Regions from separate parts of the Homo sapiens genome. Here region 2 is linked to region 1. A link means that fine-mapping ties the variant in region 1 to the expression of a gene that starts in the linked region. Tissue or cell type: whole blood. Region 1 holds a variant in brackets; the other region holds the start of a gene. All regions are shown on one strand. Distances are between the middles of the regions.

The links. PIP is the estimated chance that this variant, and not a neighbour inherited with it, causes the effect.
Region 2: UBA2 starts here. The variant in region 1 is fine-mapped to the expression of UBA2 in whole blood (INTERVAL, PIP 0.93).

Annotation. Positions count from the first base shown.
Region 1 is chr19:33,755,776-33,760,922 of GRCh38, reverse strand. All of the region lies in intron 3 of CHST8 (carbohydrate sulfotransferase 8), which reads right to left. Among named protein-coding and RNA genes, the nearest start is that of KCTD15, 39 kb to the left of the region's middle. The variant G/A (reference allele first, on the strand shown) is at 1,991.
Region 2 is chr19:34,425,548-34,430,694 of GRCh38, reverse strand. UBA2 (ubiquitin like modifier activating enzyme 2) reads right to left here and starts at 2,314. Exons shown (of 17, transcript NM_005499.3): 1 at 2,125-2,314; 2 at 36-119. The coding sequence starts at 2,262. PDCD2L (programmed cell death 2 like) reads right to left here. Exons shown (of 7, transcript NM_032346.2): 7 at 4,527-4,705. The coding sequence ends at 4,575. It overlaps LOC124904695 (a long non-coding RNA gene), which reads left to right and starts at 2,331. Exons shown (of 2, transcript XR_007067232.1): 1 at 2,331-2,573; 2 at 4,294-4,589. RefSeq lists silencers at 1,817-1,976, 2,047-2,156, 2,187-2,426.

The DNA of each region.
Region 1 (5,147 bases):
ACCAGGAATGGGATAGTGTGGCCCCTGCCCTCATGAAGCTTCCAGTCTAGCAAGGAGGAGAGGCACTGGCCAGCAACTCCATGTGTGATGGCAGCCATGGAGGACTTTGCAGGCAATGTGGGACAGTTGACATGTTAGCTAGCTCAGTGTTGCAGGTGACAGCTCCTGAAGATCGTGACAATAAATTGGCACCTGAGGGTAATGAGGACATTTCTGGCAGAGCTTCATGGCCTTCCACCATGAAAGCAAGGCTCCTGGGATGAAGAGATGGGTCCAGAGACTGAAGAGTGTCAAGAAAAGGCAGGGCCAGGTACAGTGGTTTACACCTTTAATCCCAGTGCTTTGGAGGCCAAGATGGATGGATTACTTGAGGCCAGAAGTTTAAGACCAGCCTGGACAACATAGTGAGACCCCATCTCTAAAAAAAAATGAAAAAATTAGCCTGGGCACAGTGATGGGCACCTGTAGTCCCAGCTGCTCAGAAGGCTAAGGTGGGAGGATCAGTTGAGTCCAAGCGTTAGAGGCTGCAGTGAGCTATGATTGCACCACTGCACTCCAGCCTGGGTGACAGAGTGAGATCCTGTCTCAAAAGAAAAGAAAAGAGAAAGGAAGGAAGAAGGGAGGAAGGGAGGGAAGGAAGGAGGGAAGGAAGGAAGGGCAACCATGATGGCTGGCCGGCAAGAAAGAGGCTTTATAGCCATGCAAAGACACTAGACCTTACCTCCTAAGGCCCAGGAGAGTCTCAAAGAGCTTTAGGGTGTGGAGTTATTTTGAATTTAAGGACCATTCTGAGATGGAGTCAAAGATACAGCAGAAAGGTTGGTCAGGGGATTGCTGTCACTATCCAGGCAGGAGACTCTTGAGGCCTGGACCCAGGGGATGATGAAACAGTGGAGGGAGAGTTGAAGAACATTTCGGGAGATGGAGGTGTGCTGGGAAATGTTGAACACCTGACTTTCTGGGTGATGGGGTGGGAGCGGGGAGCAGCCTGGTTTGCAGTGTTTGCTGATTTCCGTGGTCTGAAATCCCATCATGGCAGATTTCAAACTACTGATGTCATGTGGGGCTGGGCCCTTGGGGGCCAGGACAAGTTGGCCTGAACTCGCCACTACATCAGCAGGACCTGGGACTGGCTGACTGCAGAGGGAGACGCTGGCTTCTGACTTTAGCAGTGGTGAATGCTGATGCTATTCCCTGCGCAGGAGGACAGATCCCTGTGGACTTTGAGGAGACCTGACTACAGGTCTCCCAAGTGCAGACATCCAGAGGGCAGTTGGAGGAGAGGGAATTAGGGGATCAGGGGTGGCTGGTCAGAGGTGCGGGGGGCAGACGTGCCTGTGGGAGCTCATTCAGCCACCTGTGGCTCTTCTGGGCCAGTGGGGGCATGATACCAGCACTTCTCAGGGAAAGAGGGGTAGAGGCAGTGGGCCTGGGCCTGGAGGCTGCCATTTTCTGGGCCCACCGGGATCCCACCCCAGGCTCTCAGCAGCCGTGACCTCACAGCACCATGCCTGGTGGGTTAAATGGGACGGATGTCAACGCCTCCTCTTGTCTGGCTGACATGGCACGTGGTGACCACTCTGCAGCCAGCTCTGCAGGAAGGCACCTCATTTGGTCTAAATAATGGTGAATTCCCATTGTGGGGTTACCAGCAAATAGAAGCAAGTGAGTCAGGCTGGAGCCCGAGGCTGGGGTGGCCCCATAAAGGGGCTGTCTTGATGTAGTTTGGACATTCGTCCCCGCCCAAATCTCATGTTGAAGTGTGATCCCCAGTGTTGGGGGTGGGTCCTGGTGGGGGGTGTTTGGCTCATGGGGGGATCCTTCATGGCTTGGTGCCATCCCTGTAATAGTGAATGAATTCTCATGAGATCTGGTTGTTGTGAAGTGTGGCACCGCCTGCCCCCAAGTCTCACCCTTTGTTCCTGCTTTCACCAGGTGACACGCACACTCCCGCTTGCCCGCTGCCATGAGTAAAAGCTCTTTGAGCACC[G/A]CCCCCCCCCGCCAAGAAACCAAGTGGATGCTGGGGCCACACTTCCTGTCCAGCCTGCAGAGCCGTGAGCCAATGAAACCTCTTTTCTTTATAAACTGCCCAGTCTCAGGTATTTATTTATAGCAGTGCAAGAATGTGCTGACACATGCCTGTTTACAGGAAAAGTGCTCCCTACCCACTGGCCCAGCCCTGAGACAGGCCCTCCAGGGGCAGACGTGGGCAGCATGTCCTTCTTCACCCTGGAATGGAGTCAGGCAGCCAGGACGGCAGCCTCATTACCACTGTGGCCCAGCTGCAAGAAAATGATCGGTCCAGCTCCAGCCGGCCTTGGGATGCATTGTTCTGGCTGCCACGTCAATTACCGAGCTGGCCTGGAGCTGTCAAGCCTGTCACAGCTGTTGCTGTGATACCCTAAAGAGCCACAAAAGTGAATCTGTCTTAAGTGATGCTTCTTTGAAGTGACCCCCACTGCAGGCCGCTCTGGCCTGGGTGGGGCTCTGCAGACACCCTGGGGAGAGTGGGGCTCCAGACTGCAAAGGGCTGCCTAGGGGCTCAGGGATGGGTGCTCTGATCCTTGGAAGAGCTCCCAGACGGCTGAGCACTGATGGTCACTGACTGTACCCACAGGGGTCCCGGAGTCTGGGTGACGGCCCTGACTCAAGCACAGTGAATGGGCAGCTACAGTTCCAGGCCCACCCCCACCCCTACACCAACATCTCCAGTGTCTTCTCTCTGGCATCTCAGGGAACACCGAGGGGCAGCTGCAGCTGAGGGGTCATCCTGTGTGCCCCCCCACCCCACCCCACCAGAACAGAACAGAGACTCTGGCAATTCACAGGTTGCAGGGACAAGGCCAGAGACTGCCCGGAGCACTCAGGGGCTCTGGCCGTCAGTCCGGCTCTTCCCTGCCGAGGGTCTGGATAGCTGCAGTCTACATTTCAGAGCTGGGGTGAATCTCCCAGGGCAGGGCCTTGAAGCTGGAGTCAGGTCCAGCCAAGGGCTGGGGCAAGAGAAGCTCTGGAAGGCTCTGGCCTGAGGATTACACCAGCTTCTTTGAGGGGTCAAACTTGAGCATAATACTGGCGTGGTGGTGCACACATGGAATCCCAGCTACTCGGGAGGCTGGGGCAGGAGGATTGCTTGAGCCCAGGAGTTTGAGCTCCCATGTTGAGTCTGGGCAACATAGTGAGATCCCATCTCTTAAAAAAAGACACCAAACCTGAGTATGGATGCCAATCTTGGGCTTGTCAGTGGCTGGCTGTGGGGACATCACCTCCCCTGGATACCTGTCCAAGAGCCCCTTTCTGCTCCCTTCTGAATGGCCGGCTCTTTCTTTCTTTCTTTCTTTCTTTCTTTCTTTCTTTCTTTCTTTCTTTCTTTCTTTCTTTCTTTCTTTCTTTCTTTCTTTCTCTTTCTTTCTTTCTTTCTTTCTTTCTTTCTTTCTTTCTTTCTTTCTTTCTTTCTTTCTTTCTTTCTTTCTTTCTTTCTTTCTTTCTTTCTTTCTTTCTTTCTTTCTTTCTTTCTTTCTTTCTTTCTTTCTTTCTTCTTTTTTTGAGACCGCGTCTCACTCTGTTGCCCAGGCTGGAGTGCAGTGGCATGGTTTTGGCTCACTGCAACCTCCACCTCCTGGTTCAAGCGATTCTCATGCCTCAGCCTCCAGAGTAGCAGGCGTGCGCCACCACACCTGGCTAAATTTTGTGTTTTCAGTAAAGACGGGGTTTTACTATGTTGCCCAGGCTGGTCTTGAACTCCTGGGCTCAAGCAATCCACCTGCCTGGGCCTCCCAAAGTGCTGGGATTACAGGCATGAGCCACTGCGCCCATCCTGAATGGCCAGCTCTTCCTCCGCCCAGCCCAGCACCCTGTAGCAGCAGGAGCCCCCACAGGGCCATGTGGGCTGACCAGGGGGGCCCCAGACCATCATGGGAGCACAGACAGCCTGTCTTCCACTGCCCCCTCACAGCCATGCCAGACGGGGCTGCCTCCACACCCCCATACCACACTCACACCTAAACCACAGGCCCTTTGCATCTCATACCTGTACAGCCTCCAGAGCCCTGGGGTGCTGACTGCAGGGTTGGGGAAAGTGGGGAGGGCGGAGAGACTCCTGAGGGTTGCATGTTCAGAAGTCATTCTGGAGGTGACTGGGGAACTTGGAGAAGAGTGAGGCCCAAAAGGAAGTGGGAAAACAAATTCAGGTTCTTACCTTATGATGGAGGTGAGGAGTGGGGACATCTGAACTTAGGCAGGTTGGGCGGGGGTAGGAAAAGGAAATGTTGGATTTTGCAGAACAACAAAGCCAGAGGGCTAGAGGGTTTGGTGAGTCAGGGGTATGAGGGGTGAGGGTGAGGGAAATGTCTGGAGGACTCCTCCCATAGCATGCTGCCAGGACCCCCAGACAGGGAGGTCTCAGGGAATGGAGGAGCCCTTGGGGGAGAAGACCCAACCTTGGCTTATGGTGAACCAGAGACAGACTCGAGCAGCACCTGCAGGTAGCAGCTGTCAGCTGGAAACAGGACAGAGCTTGGGTGAAACTGTCCATTAGCCAGATCTGGGCCACATACCTCGGTTTGGGAGGCAGCCCAGACACACACCATGCAACCTAGGCCCGCGACTTCCAGCATCCTTCAAACAGGCCCACGTCACCGCCTAACGCCAGCCTCGTTAGCTCTGAGCACGAGAATATTAAGTAGATGTAAACACTGGAAATAGCTGTTATTTTCACGATCTTCATGCGCACCTGGAATTGGCCATCATCACAGTATTCACGTTATTCAATAACATGAAGTCTTCTAAGGCAATCCGTCAGCCAAGACCCAACCCCCTTCCCGTTCTTCGCTCTCCAGCACTTTGGGGGTGTCTCCTTGCTCCAAGAGAGGTGCCATTTGCAGGGAACTGGAAGCCGGTGTTTGCCTGGGTGGGGGTGGAGGAGCTTACTGGGCTCCTGGAAGACAGTGCCCGAGGTCCCTGAATTCCCCTTTCAAGGCCTCAAACTCTTTGCTTAGCCTCTGCCTGCACATCTCCACCAAAGGCCCTGCAATTAGACCCGCCAGCTTTGCAAACGGAATGTGCTCCCATGTAATGGCTGTTGGTAGGGCGTCTGGGGTCACCGTGAAAGGAGAGCTAAAGAAGATATCTGAGCTGTTTTCCTGCTTCCT
Region 2 (5,147 bases), 670 kb before region 1:
TCAAGTTATAGAAATGGTATGAGAAATATAGTTACCTGTGCCTTTGATCTTCCAACATGTTTCTTTTGAAACAAAAACTGTCTGTTGAGGTTGCTTACATCAATAGTATCCAGATCAATCTACAAATGCATAAACCCCAGATAAATGACAAACGTTTACGTATGTTTGAGCTGTATCACTACTCTCAGCACCTGTAATCCAGAACTTTTGATATCTGCTACATTAGTGGAGAAAGCGTTTTTCGAATCGCCATACCAAAATTGTTAAACTGATAAAGAATAATTTAATGCATGTAAGAATCTAGATTTAATGTCAGAGATAAACTTCTCAAAAATACTTTGAAAGAATGGTATATTTTGTTTGTTTAATCATCCTGGAAAATATTTCAGGAAACTCCCTGGATGCCATAAAAATATGTGAATTCATTAAAACTATATGTGCTGTCGAGGTAAACACTAACTGAAAATATATTAACATATTTCTCTACACCGGGAGTGGTGGCTCATACCTGTAATCCCAACACTTTGGGAGGACAAAGTGAGAGAATCGCTTGAGCCCAGACCTTCAAGACCAGCCTAAGCAAAATAGTGAGACCCTGGTGGCTACAAGAAATAGAAAAAATAAAATTAGGTGGCACATGCCTGTAGTCACAGCTACTCGGGAGGCTGAGGTGGAGGATCACTGGAGCCTGGGAGGCGGAGGTTGCAGTGAGCCGAGATCGGGCCACTGCACTCTAGCCAGGGTGACAGGGCCAGACCCTGTCTCAAAAAATACTAAAGTATTTCTCTTTCAATCGAATTACTCTTTCAAGTACAAAATATTAAATTTAACTATGCCCTGTTCTTTTTCTTTGTTTTTTGAGACAGGGTCTCCCTCTGTTGCCCAGGCTGGAGTGCAGTGGTGCAAACACAGCTCACTGCAGCCTCGACCTCCCAGGCTCAAGCGATCCTCCTGACACAGCCTCCCGGGTAGCTGGGACCACAGGCGCACACCACCACGCCCCGCTAATTTTCTTTTTTTGTAGAGACGGGGTTTCTCTATGTTGCCCAGGTTCTGTTCTTTTTCTTAAATGATACATGGCAAACGTTTATTGAATTTTTGCTGCCTCCCTTAATTCAAGCCTTCATCCATACACAATTTCATTTACTATTAACCTGAGAACTGTGAAAGGAAACTTTTACACATGGTTAAAAAAGTATCATGTTTTAAGTTTTATCTAATTTTTGCTTAAATATATAATACATAAAGGAAAGAAACAATGACTCAGTCGGCCACCCGTACTTTTTTGTTCATTCCATGTTTCCACTAGCCCTTAAGACACTTTAAACTCACACCGAAGGGCCAGTAACATCTCCAATCTCTAAAAAGTTTGCATTAGTAGAAATAACGATTCAAAATAGCACTGGCTTGTCAACGTACACCAATGCAAAAGGCACAGTCCTAACGTCTTTAATGAAACAAGCGAGTGTACCGTCTACTGTGAGAGCAATGACAGTCACGCAGCCTGCGGGAGCCCTGCCACTCGCTCCGTGACCCAGGGTAAGTTACTCAACCCCATTGCGTCTCCCTTTCCTCATCTGTTAAAAATAAAGCAGGGTGGAAATAGCGTTTGCACTCCTCGGGTGGTATGAAGATGGTGCGCGTTCCGTGTGTAAACCCGCTCGTGACCAGCGCTCGGGACGCGTTGGTCGCTATCATTGCCATCCTCCGCCCCGCGTCGTTACTTCGGAGTTACGACAGGGACCTCAAAATTAAAGTCACAACATCCGCGAGGGACTCAATCCTCTCCCGCATCTCCTAACAGCCGGGAATTTGTTTTGAAGGGAGGATAAGAGGCGGCTTCACGCCCACGAAGCGCCACACATTGGCGCTGCCGGGGAGGCGGGGGCCCGCGGCCTCCTCGGCGTCCGGAGCCGGCCCAGCGAGCGGAGGCCCGCCCCGTGCCCAAAGAACAGTCTCCTCCCGCGGGGGGGGCACAACCCGAGCCTCTCAGCCTGCCCCCGCTCCGCAACTCCGGTCCCGGGCTCCGGGCCCTGAGCCTCAGAGCCCCTGGAGCCCCGGAACCCCCGAATCCCAGCCCCCGCACCACAGCCCGCCATTCACGCGCGCGCGCCCGGCCCTCACCAGGTCGATGTGGGAGAAACCGGTGAGCACGAGATTCTTGAGGAGCTCGCAGCCGATGCCGCCCGCCCCCACCACCAGCACCCGGCCCCCGGCCACCGCCTCAGCCAGCTCCCGGGGCAGCCCCCGCGACAGTGCCATGGCGGGACAACCACGAGCCGCGGCGGAGGCGGAGGCGGGAGAACCGAGCCGCGGCCGGAAGCGGGTGGGGGAAGGGCGGCCTGGTTTCCGCTCCTGCGCACTACAGCCTCCGGCAGACACAGGCAGGGCACATCGCGCCGGGGTGTGCTGCAGCCCGCGGGGACCGGCAGGCTCTTGCAAAGGGCTGGCGACCTCCAGCTGAGACCGGCGGTGTTATTCCCACACCAGCATAGGCCCGCCATCAGACCTAAAAAGTCTAAGGGTCGCCTTCTAGCCTGGGGTTTCAACTCCCAGCCAAGACTTCCTTACAGGTTAGAAAACTGATGTCCCTATACGTAAAGAGCTCTTACAAATTAACAAGTGTCACCCCCAAAAAAATATAGGCAAAGGATGTGAACAGGAAACTCACAAAAAATTGGACAATATGATCAATAAGCGTATTAAAATGTAAACCATAAAAGAATCGCTTGAACCCTGGAGGTGGAGGTTGCAGTGAACCAAGATCGCACCACTTCACTCCAGGCTGGGTAACAGAGCAAGACTCCGTCTCAAAAAAGAAAAAAATGTAAACCATGCAAAATGGTAAGATTTTCACCTGCCGGGCGCGGTGGCTTACGCCTGTAATCCCAGCACTTTGGGAGGCCGAGGCGGGTGGATCACGAGGTCAGGAGTTCTGAAACCAGCCTGACTAACATGGTGAAACCCCCATCTCTACTAAAAATACAAAAATTAGCCGGGCGTGGTGGCGTGCGCCTGTAATCCCAGCTACTCGGGAGGCTGAGGCAGGAGAATCGTTTGAACCCAGGAGGCAGAGGTTGCAGTGAGCCGAGATCGCGCCACTGCACTCCAGCCTGGGCAACAGACTCCGTCTCAAAAAAACAAACAAACAAACAAACAAAAAAAAACACCGAAACAGCTGGGGGTGGTGGCACAAGCCTGTAGCCCCAGCTACTCAGGAGGCTGAGGCAGGAGAATTGCTTGAACCCAGGAGGCGGAGGTTGCACCACTGCACTCCAGCCTGAGCAATACAGCGAGACTCTGTCTCAAAAAAAAAAAAAAGTTTTTCACCTACTAAACTGGTAGAAAGAAAAAATAAGTAACACTTATCAAGGGATTGGGAAACAAGCACTCCAACACACTCCAGGTAAAGATTCCAAAGCAAAGCTTCTCTAGAGGGCGTGGTGGCTTGCACCTGTAGTCCCAGCTACTCAGGAGGCTGAGGCAGGAGGATCACTTAAGCCTGAGAGGTCGAGGCTGCAGTGAGCTATGCCCTTACCACTGCACTCCAGCCTGAGAGACAGAGCAAGACCCTGTCTCGAAAAAAAAGAAAAAAAAACCCTAAAATTGTGCACAACTTTTGACTCATTCATTCCAATTCTAGGAAACTGTCCTGTAGCAGTTATCATTGATTTAAAATATATATAAATTTAGTTACAGGGATGGCCATCATGGGAATAAAAATTGGAAAATACAAGTGGCTAAAAATTGTATAAAGCTTTTGATGTATATTTAAAAAATAGAGCAATTATAAATTATGTTGTGGGAAAAATATTAATGGGAAAATGCTCCAAATATAATGTTAAATGCAAGAAACAAGCCCACCCCATGATCACCTAGGCCTCATTATCCTCATCTACGTAGGCAGAGCATGTCTGAACATGGCTGGGAGTGTTTTTATACTGCTGTTATGGGGCTGAAGGGAAGGGGTTGATCATGTTAAAAATAAAGAAAGGGGAAGACTGGAAGGCAGCTGGATAAAGGGACAGTCTCCAGAACGGAGTAAAGACCCCTTCCTGGGATACTGCAGGAGCAGAAGATGGGAGTGGGTGAGGGCGGGGACCTGGGCTGATGAACATGGGCAGGTCTAAACAGCCAGGGTCACAGAGCAAAAACCTCCAGCAGCTAGAGCAGGTTCAGTGGCTTGATCAGGTGCCAGAAACAGCATAGGAAGCACTGGAGTGCACGTGTCAGAGGTGTACACAAGAGGCTGACCACTGCTCTTGGCTCTTTCGCTGCTCTCCTCCCCCCTAGAATGCCCACCAGAACGGCTGTGCAGACAACACCAGCCCTCTGGACTAGAGAGGAGCTACCTTCCTAGCTGCCACTGTGACAGCTGGCCCTGGACCCTGGAAGGGCAGACCAACCCACAGTCAGGAGGTCCTGGCCCGGCCCCGGCCCCGGCACCAGCACCCAAAGGCAAAAAGGCAACTCAGAAAAACAGAGGTTAATAACTTGTGAGTTAAAATAAGGTACATACAAACATATTTGGATGTAAACATTTGTTTTAATTTATATTAATAAAAGGAAATGCTCTACTTAAACAATAATTCATCTGGGTCTTCTTGTATAATACAAAATTCTTCCATGGGAGTCTGATGATTTGGGGGCCAGCAACTCTTCTCACATGTGTAAACTAGAATTGTTCCAAATTCCACAGAAAGACCTGAAAAATACCACATATTCAGGCTTCCAGCAAAAAGAGTTATGAGACTGATGTTACTAAAAGGAATGATTTTACCTTATAAGCTGAAAAAGTAATTAGGTAAAGCAAAAACAGTGCTTACTGCTTTCAGCTATAACAGAATCACAGTCTATCCTATAATAAGTGAATATTGATAACAAAAAAGCAAAATTAATTTAAAGTGGCAGGAAAATATACTTTAAAAATAAACAAAAATTTCAGCAAGTGTTCATTATAACTGTCTAGCTATCTGATGTTGAAAATCTATATTAATCTACATGGTTCATGTGATATACATAGCTTTTGGCTAGGTGCGGTGGCTCACAACTGTGATCCCTGCACTTTGGGAGGCCGACGGGGAAGGACAGCTTGAGCCCAGCCTAGGCAACATAGTGAGACACCTGTCTCTACAAAAAACAAAACA